4 linked regions of the Homo sapiens genome follow. The protein of the gene in region 1 purifies or fractionates together with the protein of each later gene. This does not show direct contact. Each region holds a gene or a part of one and is shown on either strand. Other genes may lie near its edges.

What was found. Proteins that work in one complex are often made in the same cells at the same time.
Region 2: the proteins of CPNE1 (region 1) and PEX7 purify together in Homo sapiens (co-immunoprecipitation; one large-scale study listed by IntAct). This does not show direct contact.
Region 3: the proteins of CPNE1 (region 1) and PYGB fractionate together in Homo sapiens (co-fractionation; one large-scale study listed by BioGRID). This does not show direct contact.
Region 4: the proteins of CPNE1 (region 1) and VPS4B fractionate together in Homo sapiens (co-fractionation; one large-scale study listed by BioGRID). This does not show direct contact.

What each region holds. Positions count from the first base shown.
Region 1 is NC_000020.11:35,654,901-35,658,400, forward strand, and holds part of CPNE1 (copine-1), read right to left. Parts: intron 445-3,500; exon of another isoform or gene 423-444; coding exon of another isoform or gene 1-422. Other genes in the region: RBM12 (RNA-binding protein 12), read right to left, coding at 1-422.
Region 2 is NC_000006.12:136,825,592-136,829,091, reverse strand, and holds part of PEX7 (peroxisomal biogenesis factor 7), read right to left. Parts: intron 2,774-3,500; coding exon 2,623-2,773; intron 1-2,622. UniProt on the Homo sapiens protein: Receptor required for the peroxisomal import of proteins containing a C-terminal PTS2-type peroxisomal targeting signal. Specifically binds to cargo proteins containing a PTS2 peroxisomal targeting signal in the cytosol.
Region 3 is NC_000020.11:25,254,585-25,258,084, reverse strand, and holds part of PYGB (glycogen phosphorylase, brain form), read right to left. Parts: intron 1-3,500. UniProt on the Homo sapiens protein: Glycogen phosphorylase that regulates glycogen mobilization. Phosphorylase is an important allosteric enzyme in carbohydrate metabolism. Enzymes from different sources differ in their regulatory mechanisms and in their natural substrates.
Region 4 is NC_000018.10:63,398,477-63,401,976, forward strand, and holds part of VPS4B (vacuolar protein sorting-associated protein 4B), read right to left. Parts: intron 2,564-3,500; exon of another isoform or gene 2,371-2,563; intron 2,228-2,370; coding exon 2,071-2,227; intron 1,721-2,070; coding exon 1,572-1,720; intron 848-1,571; coding exon 766-847; intron 1-765.

The sequences.
Region 1 (3,500 bases):
TGAACAGAAGTGGTGGCAGTAACTACACTGGGTGATGGATTATTAAAGTTGGATACTGTTGTGGGCAAGTTTACCCTGCTACTCATTCCTGAGCTAGGTGGTGGTCCTGATCTACTGGCATTTGCTGGTGGTATATCTAAGTTGGCAGTTTCAAAACGCCTACGACTCAGTTCAATCATATTCTGCATTTCCGTCTTACTACTCAACAATAGTGTTACTTTTGACCCTTTAATTGTACCACCTGTGCGCATCATACCAAGCCTTGCATCTTCATCAGTGGCAAAAACGATGAAAGCCTCACCCAGTTCACCCCCTACAATATGCACGCCCCCATCAGGAATGGTCAATCCAGAGAAGAAGTGGCGAATGTCCATGGTCCCCGCCACAATTGGGAGACCTTGCAAACGGATGACCACAGCCATGCTGCGCTGAAACCACACACACCTGCAGATGAGAAAAGGCAACGGCCAGGTCAGACTCCTGTTTATCACACCAAGTTTTTAGCTACAAGAATGACCAGCTACCATATTAGGCCCTCAAATATTCCCTCAAGCTATCACAGGCAATGTCTTTAATTTAGATATTCTAAAAACTGAACATTACGTGCCATTTACAATGTAAAACGTAGACAATTTCAACTTCCAGAAGGCATTAATTTTGGAAACAGTTCAGTCCCAAGACTCAAAAAGTTCAAGAAAAAACAACTGTAGGACAGTAAAATACATATACATCATTCAGACCACTAATCATTCAGTAAGATTTAAAAGAAATGTCTAAGTCAAATCAGGAAACAAAGTTTAACAATCTATAGGGAAAAAACATGCAAAGAATATATAGAAGTTAGTATTTAAAACTGGCTTAGCATCTTCCCTATATACTTGATAATTTCATAGAATTATCAAGAGTGTGATTTTATAGAGCTCAGTCTCAAAATCCATCCAACAGAAGCAAAAAACTAGAATACTAATGAATTGTAAATAATACTTAAGACTAAAAGTAGATTCAAGTCTTAAATGAGAACTGGTTCCATTATTTTATTCATCCTAAAACTTTTCAATCTGCCTTGTACATTACAAAAAACTACATATGGAATTATTTATTATAAACAAGGTTAAGACATACTAAGAAGCCAAAAGAACTACTGAATAGGACAGCTAAAATCTGAGTTACCTTGATTCATTACCCCCAAAAGTAGAACCTGGTTATAGTCCCATTCACTGTGACTATTTTAATTAAAACTCAGGTCCAATGACTCATAACCAAATCCTCTATTTAATAAAATTTTTTAAAGTATTATTTTCCCCTAGGAGAGGGCTGACAATAAAAATATTTTTTGTTTTTGTTTTAGAACCAGAGTGTGAATTACTCAGTGGTTGTTACAGTCTTGGACCTACACAACTCCTACAGGATCTCTGTGATCTCCTTAGATCATGCCTGTTTTGACATAATCAAAAAAGAAATGTTCCCCTCAAATTTCAGTATTTCAGTTCCAAAGGCTTCTAAGAGCAAATTCAAGGGCAGCCCTTTGGAAAGTGACACAAACCGAATTATTGGGCCTGGGAAACATACTACTTTGAAATTAAGGTGGTCAATAACATAGGGTGTTTTCCAACCCATCTGAAAAGTCAACTTTTATTTATTTATTTATTTTGAGACAGAGTTTCACTCTTGTAGCCCAGGCTGCAGTGCAACGGCACGATCTCGGTTCACGGCAACCTCCACCTCCCAGGTTCAAGTAATTCTCCTGCCTCAGCCTCCCAAGTAGCTGGGATTACAGGCATGCGCCACCATGCCTGGCTAAGTGTTTGTATTTAGGAGAGATGGGATTTCACCTGACCTCAGGTGATCCACCCTCCTCAGTCTTCCAAAGTGCTGGGATTACAGGCGTGAGCCACTGCGCCCCACCTGAAAAGTCAACTTTTAAATATAAGCCCATAAAATCAGCTCATGACCCTCAGAAAGGTTATAAATTAATGAAGAGATTTGGTTTTATCACTTCTCAAGAATATTAGAAGGGGCAAGATTTTCTACTATAAGCTCTAAGAATTCTGTAACTTCATTGTCAAATATTATATAAATACTAATGCAACAAAATCTGTAATTATATCTCAATATTACAACTGCCGTATACAAACAAGAAACAAACTGCTTGGCTTTGACAGTTTTCTCACAGACACATACACAAAAATAAAAAGCCACCTTCAAATTTAATCCAGAAAAATGGACTAGCAAACAGAAAATGCTTTTTGTGAGGCCATTATAAAGCACTAGAAATTTGGGAAGTGTGGGGAAGCTTTTCATTTACAAACTTCAAGAGTCAACAAGAAAAATTAACGCTAAAAAACATCACACCAACAGTCTCTTTTCTCATTTACTATTTAGCAGCCTATAAGGAGGTTCATCAAGCAGTTTCCAAGTCATTAAATCAAATTCACATTCCTTGCTCAATCTAGAATATGTGGCTGTATGCAAAATGTGATAGCATTTCCTGTTCAACTTCAAAAAACGGTTAATCACTTTGTATAGGGGAAACATCATGGGCAATCCAGGTACTCAAAACAACTTGAGAGAGAGAGAGAGACTAGTTTGCACTGGGACAATCAAACAGAAACTTGATATAGTCCCAAGAACACAAAAATTAAACACAGGGCTAAAGTGACATACACAGTTAAGTCTTCAAGCCATTTTCTGTTAAGAGCAGGGATTTACTGAAAGTTTGTACAAGGTACACATGAGAATATGCTATTGAAAATCTGCCTCAGATTACCAGCTGGAAAGGGCTGAATATTAAACCAAAGTGGAATACAAGATTTATTCATAAAGCCATCTGATGAGAAAAATTGTTTCTAGCTTCCAAAAAATATGAAATAATATCCGCAGCCAGGTGCGGTGGCTCACACCTGTAACCCCAGCACTTTGGGAGGATGAGGTGGGTGGATCACCCGAGGTCAGGAGTTCAAGACCAGCCTGGCCAACAAGGTGAAACCCCGTCTCTACTAAAAACACAAAAAATTAGCTGGGCATGGTGGCAGGTGCCTGTAATCCCAGCTACTAGGGAGGCTGAGGCAGAAGAATCACTTGAACCCGGGAGGCAGAGATCACGCCACTGCACTCCAGCCTGGGCAACAAGAGCGAAACTCTGTCTCAAAAAGAAATAAATAAATAAAACAAATAAAAATTTAAAAAAAAATTTAAAAAAGTATCTGCTTTTCTGTTACTAAGTAACTGTTTGACAGCTAAGTCATTTCAACCTAACTTGGGCCTATCTTAGTTACTTAAACAAGAGGGTTAGATTCCACTTGCTAAGGTTCCATTTAAAGTCTAAAATTTGTACTCTAAAACATGTGACCCATTATCTATACTTAAACTCTTAGGAAATATAAATAAACATATCAATAACAAGCATCTGTATTTGTAATTAGTCTAAAATGCTACTAAGGAATAAAACTTACTGCCTATCAGGAAAATCACAAGATAAATAGATCCATATAAATGAAATT
Region 2 (3,500 bases), on another chromosome or scaffold:
TCTGACTGTTGAAGCCATTTAATTGTTTTCTATTACACTAACATTCAAGGCATCCTGATACAAACGCTTACCAAAAAGTGCATTTGAAAAGAAAACGAGGAAGTCTAACTAGAATAGCAGTACGCAAAACAAATTTAAAAAATTAAAAAACAGAAGTGTGTCTTCGGTTCAAGAAATCAGCTGCAAAATCACAGAATGATGTAAAACTGGTTTAATAGCAGTTCAAATAACAAAAGAGGTAAGTGTGTTACTAGCAGACTCAAAGTAACCTAACACTAAGACATGGCTGAGAACAATGTATAGCCACTTTAGGTAATATTATTAGAGCTAGGGGCTCAAGACTATGGTGGTAAAATCTTATAAAGCTTAGCCCTTCATCACATTTCTGGAATAAATTAGGTATATGTTGAAAGGGGAGTTGAAAAACAGGATTATCAAAGGAGGCTATCAGAAGGATGAAAGACGTACAGATCATGTCATCTGAGGACAGGACAATGAAATGACAAGTGCACAGTCTGGAAGAGAGCACGATGGCTATTTTCAAGAGGTTTCCTGGACAAGAGGGGCTGGACCTGGTCTTGCCACTTCAGAGAAAGACACTAAAAGCAGCAGTTGGTTGCTATAGAAGGTAGAGTTGGGATTACAAGAAGCAGTTTCTTAATAATCAGAACAACCTAAAAGTCAAATAAGTTATCTCAAGAGAAAGTGAAATTTACTTTCACTGACAGGAAGTAAAGACTGAGTGAGCATCCATCCAGGATATCCTAGAACAGTATTTTCCAGAGAGTAGTTACACCAGAGATTATTTTAACTGGTACATACATTTATTTTATTCATTACTTACTTATCTCAATGTACACTAAAAACAAATAAATGTACATACTAAAGTAGCCATCAACCCCATTGTTTCATGAATATTACTGTTTTAGGATAAATGAAGCAACGACTTTACTTGATTGAAAGAAAAACATTAAGTCAATATATTGAATTTACCTTAACTAGCTATATTATTTTATGATGTCAGTTATCATCCTTGAATTTATATAGATAATAAAAGGCACCAAAGATTTAAGAAAAAGGAAAAAAAAAACTTCTGAAAAGAAAAATATTTTTTAAAAAAGAAAGAAGGAAAAGAAATACATTATAATACAAGTGGTATAAAAAGATGTCAAACATCACAAAAACTAGCCTGGGCAACATAGCGAAACTCCATCTCTACAAAAAAAAACAACAACAAAAAAACACACACACACAAAAATTGGCTGGGCACGGTGGCTCACGCCTATAATCCCAGCACTTTGGGAGGCCAAGGCAGGTGGATCATGTGAGCCCAGGAGTTCAAGACCAGCCTAGCCAACATGGTGAAACCCGTCTCTACTAAAAATACAAAAATTAGCAGGGCACGGTGGCGCACGTCTGTAATCCCAGCTACTCGGGTGGCTAAGACATGAGAATGGCTTGAGCCCATTCCAGAAGGTGGAGGTTGCAGTAAGCCAAGATTGCACCACTGCACTCTAGCCTGGGCAACAGAGTGAGACCCTGACACACACACACACACACACACACACACACACACACACACACACAAATTCACACAGGTTCCACAAAAGTATCTGAATTTTGGACATACTGTTCTGTAGAGATTCGTGCATTGATTATCCTGAAACTAAAATTTCTCCTTTACCAAAATTGTCTTAATATTCAGTAATTCCCTGAAAACATAGTAATTTACAACTACATTTATTCAAATAGCTATCATAATTAAAATAGAAACTAAAATTTTTCATTATTTCAGTAACAATCTTAGAAATCTTGATTGTCAATAGCTACAGCTATAAAACATCTGGACCCCTCACATAACTAATCTTTACCACAAAAGACTGATATTCTTGCATCTAATAAGCATTTATTGAGGGCCTTCTCGGGCCAGGCACTGTGGTGGACAAAAATTTGAAAGTAGATTAGCAAGTTTTCATCTGAAGGATGTACTGCTCCCTTAAGGAAAATCTTAAAACATTTAAGGTAAAAACACAAAAAGAGGATGTCTTTATGTTCACTGAAAATATACATGTATGTTAGTACAACTGAAGCCCAAACTATTTTCTATGCTATACATACACACACACAAAATCTAGACACATGAACCAGATTTAGATATAAAATCCCTTCAGTAAGTTCTGCCTCATACTCAGTATTTTATGCTCTTGCTCCAATATACTCTGAAACACCTCGGGAATCTCACTGAAGCCCCAAAGGCAATCTTGTGATGTCTATGTGAAAAGTCCACCTACCTCTACCTTAAGGCACCATGTGGCAAGCACATTCTTAGAGCACAAAGAAAGTGATGGGCCTCTCAGGAGGAAATGGTGCCAGAGTACACTGCTGGAGGTGTTCTTTCTGCCTAATGAGAAGACTGACCTTTTCTTTTCTTTCCCCACTCCTTAGGCCAAGAGGTACTTTATGTTTGAATAATCAAATAATAAGTGACATCTAGTATGTATAAGAAATGCTAACGTTTAAACTTGTCCCCTGAAGATATTTCTCCATGTGTCCATCCCCAAATGGATTTCAACCAAAGTCGAAGAAAGAAAAATAATCAGCCCAGAAAGATTTCCCTCCTACCTCCTGAGCGTGTTCTTTATAGACTTGCAGTGGCCCTGCAGCTTTGGCAGTGTCCCAGAGCTGCAGCGAGCCATCGCCACTACAGGTGATGAGGACATGTTCGTTGTTCTCACTCCAAGTCACATCAAACAAACCATCATTCCAGTCAAAGCTACACTAGGAAAAAACAAACAACAAAAAAATACAACACTTACATAGGCAGCTACACAACAAAAAAAATAACAATTATGGTTTTTTTTCTTTCAATTTATCACACATTTTAACACGTATATCTCATGTAATCTGCACAACTACGGGAGTTAAGTAGAGTAGGTACTTGACAAATATGGCAACAGATTCAGAAAGGTTAAAAAAAACAGTCCAGTGGAATGTAGTAGTCCAAAAATGTAATAGTACACAGTATACTGCTCCACATTTTTTTATGTTTAAATTTTATAATTTATGAGTGGACACTAAGAGACAGGCTTCAGATTTGTTTTGTTTTTTATTTGAGAGAAAGAGTCTTGTTCTGTCATCCAGGCTGGAGTGTAGTGGCCCAATCACAGCTCACTACAGCCTTGAACTGGACTCAAGCAATCCTCCCACCTCAGCTTCCCAAGTAGCTGGGACTACGGCCTAAAAATTAAAAAAATTTTTAGGCTGGGCCCAGTGGCTCACGCATATAATACCCACTTTGGGAGGCCAAGGTGGGCAGATCACCTGAGGTCAGGAGTTTGAGACCAGCCTGGCCAAAATGATGAAACCCCATCTCTACTAAAAAATACAAAAATTAGCCGGGTGTGGTGGCGGGCACCTATAATCCCAGCTACTTGGGAGGCTGAGGCAGGAGAATCACTTGAACCCAGGAGGGGAAGACTGCACTGAGCCAAGATGGCGCC
Region 3 (3,500 bases), about 10 Mb from region 1:
TAGGCTTCTACATTACTGTATAAATTCCAAAGTCCTTTACGTCACAGGAATTACAGCAGCATAATTAATGAGTCCTCATAGCCGCTATAAGTACAACTACTGCTGCTGTCACTCACAGTCAGGCCTCTTGTGGACTTTCATCATGCTGGATTTTATTTACACTACATTTGAACGAACTTAATATTCTATGGGGTTTCCATAGCACCTGCCTCCCCCCTCTGGCAGAGGAAGCCACAGGCACTGTCCAGGCAGGGTTTATTAACCAGTGCGAAATCATACTGAGCCCAACTAGACCCTGGCTATCTGAGAAAATACTGTGGGTCAAGTATTAACAAGAGGTTTTATAAAAAGCTGACAGGCCAGGAACATGACCAGAATGTTTTTACTTTGCCTTTAACTAAAAATGTATATTTTTTTTTAAGAGATGACGGTCTCACTATGTTGCCCAGGCTGGCTGCAAACTCCTGGCCTCAAGTGATCCTCGCGTCTCAGCCTCCCAAGCAGCTGGCACTACAGGTGCATGCCACCACACCTGGCTAAAATGTGGATTTTTAGGTTGTAGTTTGCTCTCTCTGCAAAAGTTCCTAACTTCTACTTAGAACTTTTCTACTGTGGGGAAAAAGTTTACCAGTTATGTCCCAAGAGCTTGATTATCTCTGTTTGTAAGGGACAGGACTGACACGGGAAGTGCTGGGCCTAGACTCGAAGCCTGTGCGTCTCCAATTGTCCAGGTTGCATGCAGACATCGAGGGTTCTGCAGCCTCCTGCTGAAGCACAGCCCCCAAGGCACTGCCCAGGGCCTGCCGGGCCACAGGCTCTGTCCTTGGGGACTGCAATGTGTTTTGCTGCTTTGAGGTTTTTCTGCAACTTGTTTCAATTTAAGAACTTTCATCATTTGCTGAGATGTGTCTATTTTGCTTTTACCTTAATATGGTTCAGAGTGAAAACCATGAAACTGAAAAGAGGCTTGCTGGAGGAGCTGGCCAAGAAAATGCAGACTTGAATGGTACAGGCTGGGGTCTCATCCCAGCTCCCTGCCCTGGCTAGCTGGGTGACCTGGGCAAGTCACTCAGCCTCTGAGAGGACCACATTCACCTGTGGGCTCGCACAGGGCTAGGCTAGGACTCAGGCAAGGCTGGTTCCCCTCACCATACCAGACTTTTCAAGGAGAAATGCAAAGCCTAGAAAGTTGCCAAGTGGCAGTTCTGAAAAAAACCATGTAAAGGCATAGGCTTTGTCCAAGCAACAGCCTAGGGACCTAGCTCTTCCATGACCCCAAATCCTGCTGCTGCAGGACAGCCTCTTTCCACTCACTCCCCTCTGGCTCCTCTTGTGCAACCATGAACAGGGCTTCCCTGCTCAGGGAGCGCTGGTTGGAGAACTGGACTCACCTGCTTCAGCCTGAAAATGCCAACACGATCCCTTAACCTCCCTGCTCAGCAGCTCTGCTCTAAGGAGGCCCTGCCGCCTGGGATTGAACTGGGCCATTGATCTTTCTACCATGGTCCCTTCTTGCAATATGACATAACAAGTGTTAAGTAGCCTAAAGCCAGCCTGTTTTTTGTTTTTGTTTTTGTTTTTTTTTTTTTGAGACAGAGTTTCGCTCTGTTGCCCAGGCTGGAATGCAATGGTGCAATCTTGGCTCACTGCAACCTCCACCTCCTGGGTTCAAGCCAGGCCCTCCACTTTTTTTTTTTTAACAGAGTTTATCACATGCAAAGCCTACACAACCAGGCAAATAATAGAAAAACATAAAGCTCAAAAATAGATGAAAATATGATCAACACGAACAGTACACCAAATACCAATCACCTAAAGACACCTTAGGAGTTAACAGACTCTGAAAAGAGAGTGTAACACCAACTGGCAGAGCCTCATTTTGTTCTTTACAGACAGAGATTCACAGAATTGGGCCTGTGGAGACCACCAATTTTTTCTCCCTTTTCTGAAGGGATTTTTAACTAGAGTCTTCATTTAACGTTAGTGTCTTAATACTCTGGTGGAAAAAGAAAGAACTTTCCCAACATTCAGGGAAACAAAAGAAAGAGCTGGAGCCAGGTGTGATGGCTCATGCCTATAATCCCAGCACTTTGGGAGGCTGAGGCAGGTATATCACTTGAGGTCAGGAGCTCAAGACCAGCCTGGCCAACATGATGAAACCCCGTCTCTACTAAAAATACAAAACTAGCTGGGCGTGGTGGTGCACACCTGTAATCCCACCTATTCGGAAGGCTGAGGCAGGAGAATCGCCTGAACCCGGGAGGCGGAGGTTGCAGTGAGTAGAGATCGCGCCACTGCACTCCAGCCTGGGCAACAAGAGCAAAACTCCACCTCAAAAAAAAAAAAAAGAGTTGGGCGGCTGCTTTCACCAAGATGAAGAGCCTCATTCTACAGGCAGATCTGGTCTGAAACCGGTCCCCTCCTGTCCCCAGGAAAGCACAGCAACTCTCCTTTTGTGTATTCGATTCTGTCGGTGCCAGCATGCCTCAGACCAGCCGCCCTCTACTGGTTCCTACATGGGCACAGAGTGACTCACAGGGCAGAGTGTCCCTCCCTGCCACCCAGGCACTATGGACAGAGCTGGCCCTGATAAGACACAGGAACACAGGCCACTGAGCCAGCCAGAGGCCAGTGGGCACCACGTTCCACCAGCCAGGCCTTGGAGCGGGGGCTCCCAGCCCCTCCAGACACAAAGGGGCCACCTCCCTGGGCTGGACCTGCTGGCTCCTGCTGGTGAGCTGAGCAGTCTCAGATACCATCCAGGGGAACCGAGGTCCTGTGGGAGGAGAGATGTTGAGGGGCCTCCCACCTGCCAGACGCTGAGGTTGGTCTTTGGTTTCCTTGACAGTGTCACAGTGTCCACTCCACTGTGTCTGAGGGGGCTTCTGGGGAGTTGCTCACAGAGCAATCTGATAATCCACTACTGTATCTGCTGTAAGGATGTGAGGATTAGCTAGCACATCTCTCAAGCTCCCAGCCTGTGATGTCACACGGTACTTTCTTAATGAATTAACTGCCAGGGAAACTTGGCTTCCCATGAACAGTGGGCAGGCTTCTCAACGTGGATCGTGGATTTCCTTCTCACTCCAGTACCTACGACTCAAACACAGGTCTGTTTGCTCAATTTTGAAAATGTCAAATGTAAAAGAATTATAGAACTTTAGAACTTATGGGGATCTTAAGAGATCACTTGGTTCTGTAGTAAACAAATTCCTTCTACACTCCATGACACACATTGCCACAAGTCACTGTCTCCCGCCTTCTATGCAATTAAGCTCCACAAAAAGTCTATTCAGTACTAATCCAGAGCCAGAAAGCGATGGGAGCCTTCTCCTTATCACTGACAGAGCCTAATCAACTTACACTAAGTGATCTGGACCGTGTCAAACTATATTTATACCTAGTGAGCTACCAGTCATCGTTTTTAAACACTACTTTAATCTTTCATTTTAACTGTTTGTAGGCCGAGAAATGCCACTTACCTATACCTAAAATTACAT
Region 4 (3,500 bases), on another chromosome or scaffold:
CCCAAAGTGCTGGGATTACAGGCATGAGCCACCACACCCGGCCTGACATATAGTTTTTACTAAAAAAAAAAAAAATCTTGGCTGGGCACGGTGGCTCACATCTGTAATTCCAGCACTCTCGGAGGCTGAGGCGGGTGGATCATGAGGTCAAGAGATCGAGACCATCCTGGCCACATGATGAAATCTCGTCTCTACTAAAAATATACAAATTAGCTGGGCGTGGTGGTGCATACCTGTAGTCCCAGCTACTTGGGAGGCTGAGGCAGGAGAATCACTTGAACCCGGGAGGTGGAGGATGCAGTGAGCCGAGATCGCACCACCGCACTCCAGCCTGGCAACAGAGTGAGACTCCGACTCAAAAAAAAAAAAAAAATCTTACCTGGTTATCTTATTTTGACTTATAGAATTGCCATTTTGCTAAAATTTTATATAAATGGTTTTTACTGAATTGTCAAACTATGTTTATAAATTTTTGAAGCATCAGTGCCCACCAAACTTAATCAGAATGAAAGGTAAGCATTAGGTAATATATTTTCTAATATGAAAGACAGAAGTGTGTGGAAATCTTGTATATTTGATAAACTAGGGAAACAAACAAGCAAATGACCACCCTTCTCCCACTCAAGGCAGGGGAGCAACAGGGTTAGAGCACATTACAAATCTTTTGAAAAGTTGTTAGAATGCTTCCTGACAAGACAAAAAGAGAATTATCATCTACTTGTTACATCTGCAGTGAGAAATAAGATATTTACTATATTATCCTACCTTCGCCTAATGGCAGAATCCAGAACCCAGGGTATATTTGTAGCTCCCAGAACCAAAATTCCATCATTGTCTACACCAACCCCTGCATTAAAATAGGTAATGCTTTAATTAATTTGTCATTTTGGTGTTCTTTAAACTTCTTCCATATATTCTGTTAAGAAATGTGGTGCTTTACCATTAAAGTGCTTCATCTTGAGAGTCTGTCTTTGGAAAAGAACTGTATTTAATCAAATATCACCTTACGGCAATATGATCCAAATACACTATGATGCAATATGATGCAAATATATGAATCAAATCTCCCAGATTGTGGAAAATACTATTAACATTCGTTTCAAAATATTTCTTGAAAAATTTCATTCGAAGTCTACATATTACTTTTACTGAAGTTGTTCCTGGTACATTATAAATGAATACATTAAATCTCTTTTCTATTTATGTCAGTGAGTCCTACAAGATAATTACAATTGAGTAAAAATTATGTATGCATATGGAAGACAATTGGAATGAAACATGGCAAAATGAAACAGTTTGTTAGAATGGAGAAATTCTGCTTGAATTTTTCATTACTGTTATAAAAATTGTTATAAAATAAACAAAAACGACTTTAAAAATCAGTAACATTAAATTAGCCGGGCATGGTGGTGCGCGCCTGTAATCCCAGCTACTCAGGAGGCTGAGGCATGAGAATTGCTTGAACCTGGGAGGTGGAGGTTGTAGTGAGCTGAGATCGCGCCACTGCACTCCAGCCTGGGCGACAGAGTGAGACTCCGTCTCAAAAAGAAAAAAAAAATTAGTAACACTACCTTGCATTTGCACTAGGAACTCCGTCTTAATTCTACGTGCGGCTTCACTTTCATTTTCACTTCTTGAACCACAGAGAGAATCAATTTCATCAATGAAGATAATGGAGGGCTTGTTCTCTCTGGCAAGTTGGAATAAATTCTTAACCAGTCTAAAAATAAATGAAAACTTTTAAGTCTCTAAAAAATAGTAAAAGATTAAAACAAAGTAATATATCAATATTACAAGAACTCTGTAGATTAAAAAGCCTAATCATGTTTCAGGTACAGAAAATAAGAATGCTACAACTGGATAATTCACTTTATGATTCACTAGGTTGTAGATATATGCTATCTTTTCCCACAAAAGAAATTCTAGATTAGAGACTGATTTGACAGAGAAGTGAGTACCTGTATTACATGACTTCTCTGAATATCTATAAGTGATGTAAGAAATCTATTAAGGAGTGATACAGTAATTACAGGCAAAGAAAAAACTTTAAAAAATTGATTTACTACTTACTTTTCACTTTCACCTAGCCACTTAGAAACAAGATCAGAGGAAGATATTGAAAAAAATGTTGAGTTGTTGGCTTCTGTTGCTACAGCTTTGGCTAAGTAGGACTTTCCTGTTCCAGGCGGCCCAAATAATAGGATTCCCCTCCAAGGTGTTCTCTTGCCTAAAATTTAGATTTAGAAAAATGTCATGAGAATTTTAACACTTAATTGTATCATCTATACTGAGGAATACTCTGGAAAGATTTTCACTCTAAACCTCTAAGGATCAAAACAATATTTTAAAAATAAATCAATCTAAGGTATGTCTTAAATATATTTTGTTTCTTCTAGAGACTACTTTATCAAAAAGAGACTTGCATAACATAAGCCTTCTAACAGGAAGTACATTTGTTTGCTCATTCATTCAACCAATATGTATCAAAACCGTAACATGTGCACAGGCAAAAGGATTTCTGCCCTGCGTGGAGTCTAGTAGGGGAAAAGAGTTCAGTTAAAAGGTACTTTCTGATCATCTACTGTGTACACTGCTTGATACCAGAATATTGTACAAAAATTATATCCATAAAAAATGGGCAGCTGGAAGAGATTTTCTTTGAATATTTATGCTCTTTGGAAAAGTGAACCTAACAAAGTTTGGATGACTTGTGAGTTTCTGCTGAATTCTTGATTCCACAGGAAAGCACAGGTTAGTGTTATAGGTAGCAGACTTTCTTTTATTTTATTTTTTTTGAGACAGAGTCTCACTCTTGTTGCCCAGGCTGGAGGGCAGTGGTGCGATCTCGGCTCACTGCAACCTCTGCCTCCTGGTTTCAAGCAATTCTCCCGCCTCAGCCTCCCAGGTAGCTGAGATTATAGGTGCCCGCCATTACGCCTGGCTAGTTTTTGTATTTTAGTAGAGACGGGGTTTTACCATGTTGGTCAGGCTGGTCTCGATCTTCTGACCTCAGGTGATCTGCCCACCTCAGCCTCCAGCTAGGTAGCAGACTTTCATGGTTGGGTAACAAAAAGGTGATACTACTTTAAATCCTAGTTTTGCCAAAATATAACCAGTGAATACATCAACTCTTCGAGCCTCAATTTTGCTAATGAGCAATTATAATCCTGCCTAAAATAAAACAGGTGGGTTACAGCTGGCAGTAAACTATCAAACATACATTTAAAAAACTATGGCTGGGCATGGTGGCTCATGTATGTAATCCCAGCACTTTGAGAGGCTGAGATGGGCGGATCACCTGAGGTCAGGAGCTCGGGACAACTGTGGCCAACATGGTGAAACCCTGACTCTAGTAAAAATACAAAAATTAGCTGGGTGTGGTGGCAGATGCCTGTAATCCCAAATACTCGGGAGGCTGAGGCAGGAGAATTGCTTGAACTCGGGAGGTGGAGGTTGCAGTGAAACGAGACCACGCCATTGCATTCCAGCCTGGGTGACAA